Regions from separate parts of the Homo sapiens genome. Here region 2 is linked to region 1. The links come from fine-mapping of genetic effects on gene expression. A gene starts in region 1. The other region holds a variant in brackets. All regions are shown on one strand. Distances are from middle to middle. Region 1 holds the start of GNB2 (G protein subunit beta 2). Region 2 overlaps ZAN (zonadhesin).

Region 1 (4,247 bases):
CCCAATAGGTAGTTTTTCAACCCTTCCCCCCTCTAGTAATCCCCCGTGTCTATTGTTCCCATCTTTATGTTCATGAGTACCCAGTGTTTAGCTCCTACTTATAAGTGAGAACATGCAGTGTTTGGTTTTCTGTTCCTGCAGAAATTTATCCACTTAGGATAAAAGCCTCTAGCTGCATCCATGTTACTGCAAAGGACACGATTTCTTCTTCTTTTCTTTTCTTTTGTTTCTTCTTTCTTTCTTTCCCTTCCTTCCTTCTCTCTTTTCTTTCTCTTTCTCTCTCTCTCTCTTTTCTGCATCCATGTTGCTGCAAAGGACATGATTTCTTCTTTTTTCTCTCTTCCTTTCTCTTTCCTTTCTTTTTTTCTTTCCTTCCCTTCCTTCCCTCCTTTTCTTTCTTTTACTTTTTCTTCTTTTGTCTTTCTTTCTTCTTCTTGAGTCAAAGTCTTGCTCTGTTGCCCAGGCCGGAGTGCAGTGAGTGGTGTGATTTTGGCTCACTGCAACCTCCGCCTCCCGGGTTCAAGCAATTCTCCTGCCTCAGCCTCCTGAGTAGCTGGGATTACAGGTGTGTGCCACCACGCCCAGCTAATGTTTGTATTTTTAGCAGAGACGGGGTTTCACCATATTGGCCAGGCTTGTCTCAAACTCCTGACCTCAAGTGATCCACCCGCCTCGGCCTCTCACAGTGCTAGGATTACAGGCGTGAGCCCCATCTCGTTCTTTCTTATGGCTGCGTGTTTTGATACTTTCAAATTACAAGGACTCAGTGAAGGCTATTCGTTGCCTTGAACTTCCCAAAGCATTTCCACAATCGATGGGGTTCTCAGTAAGAATCCGGGACTTGGAGGGCAGATGCTGTCAACATCCCCATTTAACAGATGTGGAAACTGAGGCCTAGACCTACGTTCTTGTCCCTTTACAGGCAAGGTCCCTGGAGGAAGGGGTTCATCTAGAGGCTCATACAGATAAACTGGAATGTACAGTAAAGTTTTGGCTGCCTGGGTTCATATCTAAACTCTGCAGCCTCAGGTCTCTTTCCACTATTAGAAAATGGGGAGAAGGCTGGGCGCGGTGGCTCACGCCTGTAATCCCAGCACTTTGGGAGGCCGAGACGGGCACATCACCTGAGGTCAGGAGTTTGAGACCAGCCTGGCCGACATGGTGAAACCTCGTCTCTACTAAAAATACAAAAAAAAATTAGCTGGGCATGGTGGCGGGCGCCTGTAATCCCACCTACTCCAGAGGCTGAGGCAGGAGAATCGCCTGAACCCAGGAGGCGGAGGTTGCAGTGAGCCGAGATCATGCCACTGCACTTCAGCCTGGGCGACAGAGTGAGACCCTGTCTCCAAAAAAAAAAAAAAGAAAAGAAAAGAAAATGGGGAGAATGTTAGCACTTAATTTCCCAGTATTGTGAGACTTAACATATGTCAGCCTGGGCAGCATAGCAAGACCCCACCTCTACCAAAAATTTAAAAATTAGCTGGGCATGGTGGCTGGGGCACGCCTGTGGTCCCAGGTACTAGGGAGGCTGAGGCAGGAAGATCACTTGAGCCGAGGAGATTGAGGTGGCAGTGACCTACAATCGCGTCACTGTACTCCAATTAAAAAATAAGTGTCGGGCCAGGCGCGGTGGCTCACGCCTGTAATCCCAGCACTTTGGGAGGCCGAGACAGGCAGATCACGAGGTCAGGAGATGGAGACCATCCTGGCTAACACCGTGAAACCCCGTCTCTACTAAAAATACAAAAAATTAGCCGGGTGTGGTGGCACACGCCTGTAGTCCCAGCTACTCAGGAGGCTGAGGCAGGAGAATCGCTTGCACCCGGGCGGCGGAGGTTGCAGTGAGTTGAGATAGCACTCCAGCCTGGGCGACAGAGAGAGACTCCGTCTCAAAAAAAAAAAGTGTGGCTCTCAATAAATGAGTTGTTATTTCAGTGGCAAGCCCTGAAAGGGGGTCTACAAAGGCCCAGTGGGCGAGGCTGAGGAAATGCCTGGACACGACCCTTCTCATGGCATTCCCGGGGCGCCCGCATCAGCCCCTACCCACTCCCGCTCGGGGACTTTCTCGGAATCGCGCTTCTTCTTCCAGCAGCCTCGAGGCCGGCCCCGTCCAGGTCTCTTTAGCTCCGCCCCCTGGTGAGGGGCGTGGCCTCCTCAGGGCCGGGGCGTGGCCCAACCGGGAACTGGGGCGTCGAACTCCCCTTCCCAGTCTGGAGCCACCCATTCCAGGCGGGGCGGGAGGCTGATCACGTGACCAGCGAGCGGTCTCACCCTCCTCATATGCCAGTACCACCTCCTCCAGTCCCAGAGGGGGGATGTCTTACTCCTTTCCGTGAAGCAAACCCTTTGAGTACGGTTTGCGTCCACAAAGCGTAGGGTGAGAACCTTGGGAGCGACTGGGCCCGTCTTTGCTCCCTCGGTGGGGTTTTGTCTCCTGGCTTCCCCCAAGTGCGAGGCAGTTGGTCTCGCCCAGCCGGGTCCTGGGCGCGGCGGCGGCAGCCGCGTCACTGGCGGGCGGGATCCCTCCGCTCTGGGGAGGCAGCGCTGGCGGCGGGGCTGGGGCCACTGAGGAAATCCATCCGCGCCGCCGCCGCCGCCGCCGCCGCCGCCGCCGCCGCCTCCGCCGCGGAGGAAGACAGCGCCGCCCGCGCACCGCCAGCGACCTCCGCCGCAGAGTCCCACCGCCACAGGTACCTTCGCTGGCAAAAGGAGTCCTCTCGCCCCCCAGCCCCAATTTCCCCCAGGGGAACCTCTCTTCCTTCGGTCTCCCGGGGCTGGCCTCCTGGGAGCGGACGTAACTCCCCAGACCTCCGCTCCCTTCCCCTCTTGCCCGGTCGCTCCCAAACCCGGAAGGGGAACTGGGGAACCCTCGCCCCCCACCGTGCGTGCGCTTCCCCGCACCATCAGCGAAGTTTTTGCCCGACCCCAGACCCCAGCCCAGCCCCGACTGCCTCTTGCTCCCTCGGAAGTTGGGGGGCTAAATTCCGGGCTTCCTCTAGGCCCCGCCCCGCCCCCTTTCCCCACCGCCACCCTCCCGCCTGCCCCCGGGGAGCACCCCTCGTGTCCTCCACTGTCGCACCCCTGCCGGCCCTCGCCTTGCACAACTCCAAAATCGGGGAGAAGCAGGCAAGGCCGCGCGCCACCCTTCCTTTCGTCTCCACCCTACCCACGATTTGGGTGCTGCCCGTGGTTTCTGGCCCCACTCGCCGAAACTGGAGCCCTCGGCGCCCTATTCCCTTTACAGATCCTCACCCCAAGCCCAGCTCCCAGGCGCCCGCCCCCCGCCCAGCTTTCTTTTAGGCAAAATGGAGGTCGTAGGGGCTGGAGGGCCAGGCCCACTGCGCTTCGCAGCGCCGCACCAGCCCGCGCCTTCCAGCTGCCAGATCCAGGGACCCTCCCGTCACTCTCCTGAGCCCCGCCAGACCTGCGGAGGCGGTTGCACCCTCATTTCTCTATGGAGCGCCGGCTGCTATATCCCTAGAGTCTGGGGGCTGCTGAGGGCCCTGGGGGGTGATGGGGACCGAGGGCTGAGAACGTCGCCCCCGCCCCCAGTTTCTTCCTCCAGCCGTGCTTCCTTCTGCCCTGGGCCTCCGGCGGTGCCGCCAGGCCTGGGCTGCTAGTAGGTGGAAGAGGCTTTGTGCGGGCCTGGGGGTTGGGTAGAGTAAGGAGTTCTGCCCGCACCCCCCATCCCCCGATTTTGAGGGTCACCCCTTGGCACTGGCGTAGAAAGCTGAACTTACAAGGAGGGGAAATGTCAGTGGGGAAGAGGAACGCCCTGCGCCTGGGGGAAGTGGGAGCTGGGTGGGGGACGCCTGGGCCGGCCAAGTGCAGTGTGTACGGCCGGATCGCACAGGTGTCCCGCGGGCGGGGAAGGACTCAGGCTCCCGGAGCGGAGCCAGCCGGGCCCCTGGGGCCCGGGCGCCGAGCCTGCGGGCTGGGCCCCCCGGGTGTCCAGGGCGCCGCGGCCAGGCCGCCTGGGGCCGCCCGCCCGCGCCTGGGAGAGAGCACCTCCGCGCCTCGGGGCCGGGGACCTCGTTGCGGAGCCGTAATTACTCGAGAGCGGCTCCCACGGGCTTTCTGCGGGCGCGGCGGGGCGGGCGGTCCCTGCGCTGGAGGGAGCAGCGGCTCGGGGCTGCCTTCCCCGCCGCTGTCACCCCCACCCGCGGCGGACGGCTAATGGGGCGCAGCCGGACCGGGGATTATCCGGGGTGAGCCGTCCAGAACCTATTAGCGCCCAATCGGCTTTT
Region 2 (4,504 bases), 120 kb after region 1:
CAGCAACAGCAATTGTGTCTCAGACAGTAAGGGGAGCGACCGGGGAGGTTGGAGAGGGGAGCACCTGTGGCCAGGGCGGAGGTGGAGGAAGAGGCAGGGTGGGAAGGGGCTTAGCCTGAACCCCAGCACAGTCAGGGGTTGGGGCGGGCGACTGGATCAGGAGGCCTGGCCTCCAGTTTAGCTCTTGCTAACTCTGTGGCCATGTGCCAGGTCCTGATCCCCTCTGGGACCCTCCACCTGCAGGGCAAAAAGAGGGGACTGGTCAAGGAGATCCTCCAAAGTTTTTCTTTTCTTGTTTGTTTGTTTTTTGAGATAGGGTCTTGCTCTGTTGCCCAGGCTGGAGTGCACTGGCACCATCATATAGCTAGCTGCAACCTCAAATGCCTGCAATCATGTGATCCTCACATCTCAGCCTCCCAAGTAGCTGGGACTACAGGCATGGACCACCACACCCAGCCAATTTTGCTATTTTTTTTCTAGAGATGGGGTCTTGCTATGTTGCCCAAGATGGGCTTGAACTCATGGGCTCATGTGTTCCTCCTGCCTCAGCCTCCTAAAGTGTTGGGATTACAGGCATGAGCCACTGTGCCCGCCCCCTCTAAGGTTTTTAATCAGGCCAGGAGATAGAGAAAATTGAAGATCAAGGATCCAGGGAGGCTGGGCATGGTGGTTCATGCCTGTAATCCCAGTACTTGGGAGGCAGAGGTGGAAGAATCACTTCAGCCCAGGAATTTAACACCAACCTGGCCAACATAGGAAGACCCTGTCCCTACAAAAAATTTTAAAATTTTAAAAAATTAGTTAGGTGTAGTGGCTTGTGCCTGTAGTCCCAGCTACTCAGGAGACTGACGCAGGAGAATTGCTTGAGCTCAGGAGTTTGAGGCTGCAGTGAGCTATGATTGTACCACTGCACTCCAGCCTGGGACACAGAGTGAGATCTTGTCTCAAAAAAATAAAAAAATAAAAATAATAATAAAGGGCCTCTAATTGAATGTCAGTAGGTATTGAAAAAAAAAAGTCTAGGTACCGGGCTTGGTGGCTTATGCCTGTAATCTCAGCACTTTGGACTTTGGGAGGCCAAGGTGGGAGGATTTCTTGAGGCCAGGAGTTCAAGACCAGCCTGGGCAATGTAGTGTGGCCATTTCTAAAAAAAAAAGAAAAAAATTAGCTAGGGGTGGTGGTGCGCACCTAAAGTCCCAGCTACTCAGGAGGATCACTCGAGACCAGGAGGTGGAGGCTGCAGTGAGCTATGATCGTACCACTTGTACTCCAGTCTGGGTGACAGAATAAGACCCTGTCTCAAAAAAAGAAAAAGAAAATTAAAAAAAGAAAAGAAAGGATCCAGGGAGCCTGAGCCTAAGAGGGTGGCCACAGGGGATGCCACCGTGGGGGAGGGACTCTGGGGACTGTCACACCTGGGCAGGGTCCCTTCTCAGTCTTTTGTTTTGTTTTTTGTTTTTTTGAGATGGTGTCTTACTCTGTCTCCCAGGCTGGAGTGCAGTGGCGCGATCTCGGCGCTCACTACAACCTCTGCCTCCCGGGTTCAAGCAATTCTCTTGCCTCAGCCTACCAAGTAGCTGGGATTACAGGCACGCACCACCACACCTGGCTAATTTTTGTATTTTTAGTAGAGACAGGGTTTCACCATGTTGGCCAGGCTGGTCTCAAACTCCTGACCTCAGGTCATCCACCCGCCTTGGCCTCCCAAAGTCCTGGGATTACAGGCGTGAGCCACTGCGCCCGGCCCCTTCTCACTGTCTGACTTCTTGGCAGAGTCTGAACAATGCTCAGTCTATGGCGACCCCCGTTACCTCACATTTGACGGCTTCAGCTACCGCTTGCAAGGCCGCATGACCTATGTTCTGATCAAGACTGTGGACGTACTGCCTGAGGGGGTGGAGCCCCTCCTCGTGGAAGGACGCAACAAGATGGATCCGCCCAGGAGCTCCATCTTCTTGCAGGAAGTGATTACCACCGTCTACGGCTATAAAGTGCAGCTCCAAGCTGGTCTGGAGCTTGTGGTAAGAGCTGGGCCAGGGCCTGGTGGGTGTGGGGAGGCAGCTGGACCAGGTAGGCCACCTGGAGTAGAAGTCAGGGATCCCTGTTCCCTGGGATGTTTGTGGCAGGGGTGGGCTGGTTGTAAAATCAGAGTCAGCAGGACGCAGTGGTTCACGCCTGTAATCTCAGCTACTCAGGAGGCTAAGACGGGAGGATCACTTGAGCCCAGGAGTTCAAGACCAGCCTGGGCAACATAGCAAGACGCAACATCTCTGCAAAAAATTTAAAATGAGCTGGATATGGGGGCGCACACCTGTAGTTCCAGCTATTGGGCAGGCTTAGGCTGGAGGATCACTTGAGCCCAGGAGTTTGAGGCTGCAGTGAGCCAAGATCTTGCCACTGCACTTTAGCCTGGGTGACAGAGAGAAACTGTCTCAAAATCAAAAACAAATTCAGCAACAAGCTCACTTCATGTGGGGAGGCAGCAGAGGCTGGCAAGAAACAAGAGGAAGAGAGGAGGAGGACAGAGCGTGAGGTGTGTGAAGGTCAATCCTGGGCTGAAGAACCAATGGCATCCACTACACCAATGTATTTTTATTTTTTGAGGCAGAGTTTCACTCTGTCGCCCAGGCTGGAGTGCAGTGGCACCATCTAGGCTCACTGCAACCTCCACCTCCCAGGTTCAAGTGATTATCCTGCCTCAACCTCCCTAGTAGCTGGGACTACAGGTGTGCACCACCATGTCTGGCTAATTTTTGTATTTTTAGTAGAGACGTGGTTTCCCCATGTTGGCCAGGCTGGTCTGGAACTCCTGACCTCAAGTGATCCGCCCGACTCGGCCTCCCAAAGTGCTAGAATTACAGGTGTGAGCCACTGTGCCCGGCCTCACTGAGCCAATTTTTTGCAAGGAAGGACTTGGGCTGGGAAGGGGGCGGACCTCACAGAGGTTTCTGCCACGTGAATAGCAAAGCCCA[T/C]TGGGGTATCTTATTCCACTCTCTGCACGGAGACATATGGAGATGACTGGGAAAAGTGAAGCCCAGCCAGGAAATGGCAGCAGGTCAGGAGGATTCAGCCCTGTCTGTGGCTCCTGTCTTCCCTCTTTAGGTCAACAACCAGAAGATGGCCGTCCCCTACAGGCCAAATGAACACCTGCGGGTCACCCTGTGGGGCCAACGGCTCTACCTGGTCACCGACTTTGAGCTGGTCGTCAGCTTTGGTGGAAGGAAAAATGCAGGTAATGGAGAGAGGGGAAAGAAGAGCAAAAGGGCCATTTCTGGGAAGTGGGAGGGAAAATCCTATTTAAGACAGGCAAATCCTGGTGAGCAGACTCGGCCCGGTAGTGGGGCACCCAGCTTCAGAGGAGGACCAGGAGGAGGTGAGGTGAGACCAGGTGGAGAGCAGAGGGCAGAGTCTTGGCTGGGTGCTGTGGCACTGGCCAGAAATCCCAGCGCTCCGGGAAGCTGAGGTGGGAGGATCGCTTGAGGTCAGAAGCTCAAGACCAGCCTGGGGAACATAGTGAGACCCCCGTCTCTACAAAAAAAATTTTAAAGGCCGTGCACAGTGGCTCACGCCTGTAATCCCAGCACTTTGGGAGGCTGAGGCAGGTGGATCACCTAAGGTCAGGAGTTCAAGACCAGCCTGGCAAACATGGCGAAACCCCATCTCTACTAAAAATACAAAAATTAGCTGGGTGTGGTGGTGGGCGCCTGTAATCCCAGCTACTTGGGATGCTGAGGCAGGAGAATCGCTTGAACGTGGGAGGCGGAGGTTGCAGTGAGCTGAGATCGTGCCACTGCACTCCAGCCTGGGTGACAAGAGCAAAACTCCATCTCAAAAAAAATTTTTTTTTTTTAAATGAGACAGGTGTGATGGTGCATGCCTGTAATCCCAGCTTCTGGAACTGGAGAGGCTGAGACGGGAGGATCGCTTGAGGCCAGGCATTCGAGACCAGCCTGGGCAACATAGCAAGATCCCATCTCTATAAAAAATAAAAATAAAAAATTAGCTGGATGTGGTGGTGCACACCTGTAATCCCAGCTACTGGAAAGGCCGAGGAGAGAGGATCGCTTGAGCCCAGAAGTTGGAGGCTGCAGTGAGCCATGATTGAGCCACTGTACTCCAGACTGGGCAACAGAGCAAGACCCTGCTTTAAAAAAAAGTTAATTAAGGCTGGGCACGGTGGCTCACACCTGTAATCCCAGCACTTTGGGAGGCCGAGGCAGGCAGATCACGAGGTCAGGAGATCGAGACCATCCTGGCTAACACGGTGAGACCCTGTCTCTACTGAAAATACTAAAAATTAGCCAGGTGTGTTGGCGGGCACCTATAGTCCCAGCTACTCGTGAGGCTGAGGCAGGAGAATGGAGTGAACCTGGGAGGCGGAGCTTGCAGTGAGCGGAGATCACACCGCTGCACTCCAGCCTGGGCAACGGAGCGAGACTCCATCTCAAAAAAAAAAAAAAAAAGTTAATTAAAAAAAAGAGTGAGGGCTAGGCGCGGTGGCTCA

What was found. PIP is the estimated chance that this variant, and not a neighbour inherited with it, causes the effect.
Region 2: its variant is the best candidate, but not a certain one, in a credible set for the expression of GNB2 in whole blood (TOPMed, PIP 0.59).

What each region holds. Positions count from the first base shown.
Region 1 is chr7:100,671,234-100,675,480 of GRCh38, forward strand. It overlaps GNB2 (G protein subunit beta 2), which reads left to right and starts at 2,507. Exons shown (of 10, transcript NM_005273.4): 1 at 2,507-2,690. RefSeq lists silencers at 2,037-2,166, 2,177-2,256, 2,507-2,686 and enhancers at 3,117-3,326, 3,527-3,606.
Region 2 is chr7:100,786,116-100,790,619 of GRCh38, forward strand. ZAN (zonadhesin) reads left to right here. Exons shown (of 48, transcript NM_003386.3): 37 at 1-26; 38 at 1,774-2,021; 39 at 3,103-3,232. Among named protein-coding and RNA genes, the nearest start is that of EPHB4, 39 kb to the right of the region's middle. The variant T/C (reference allele first, on the strand shown) is at 2,973.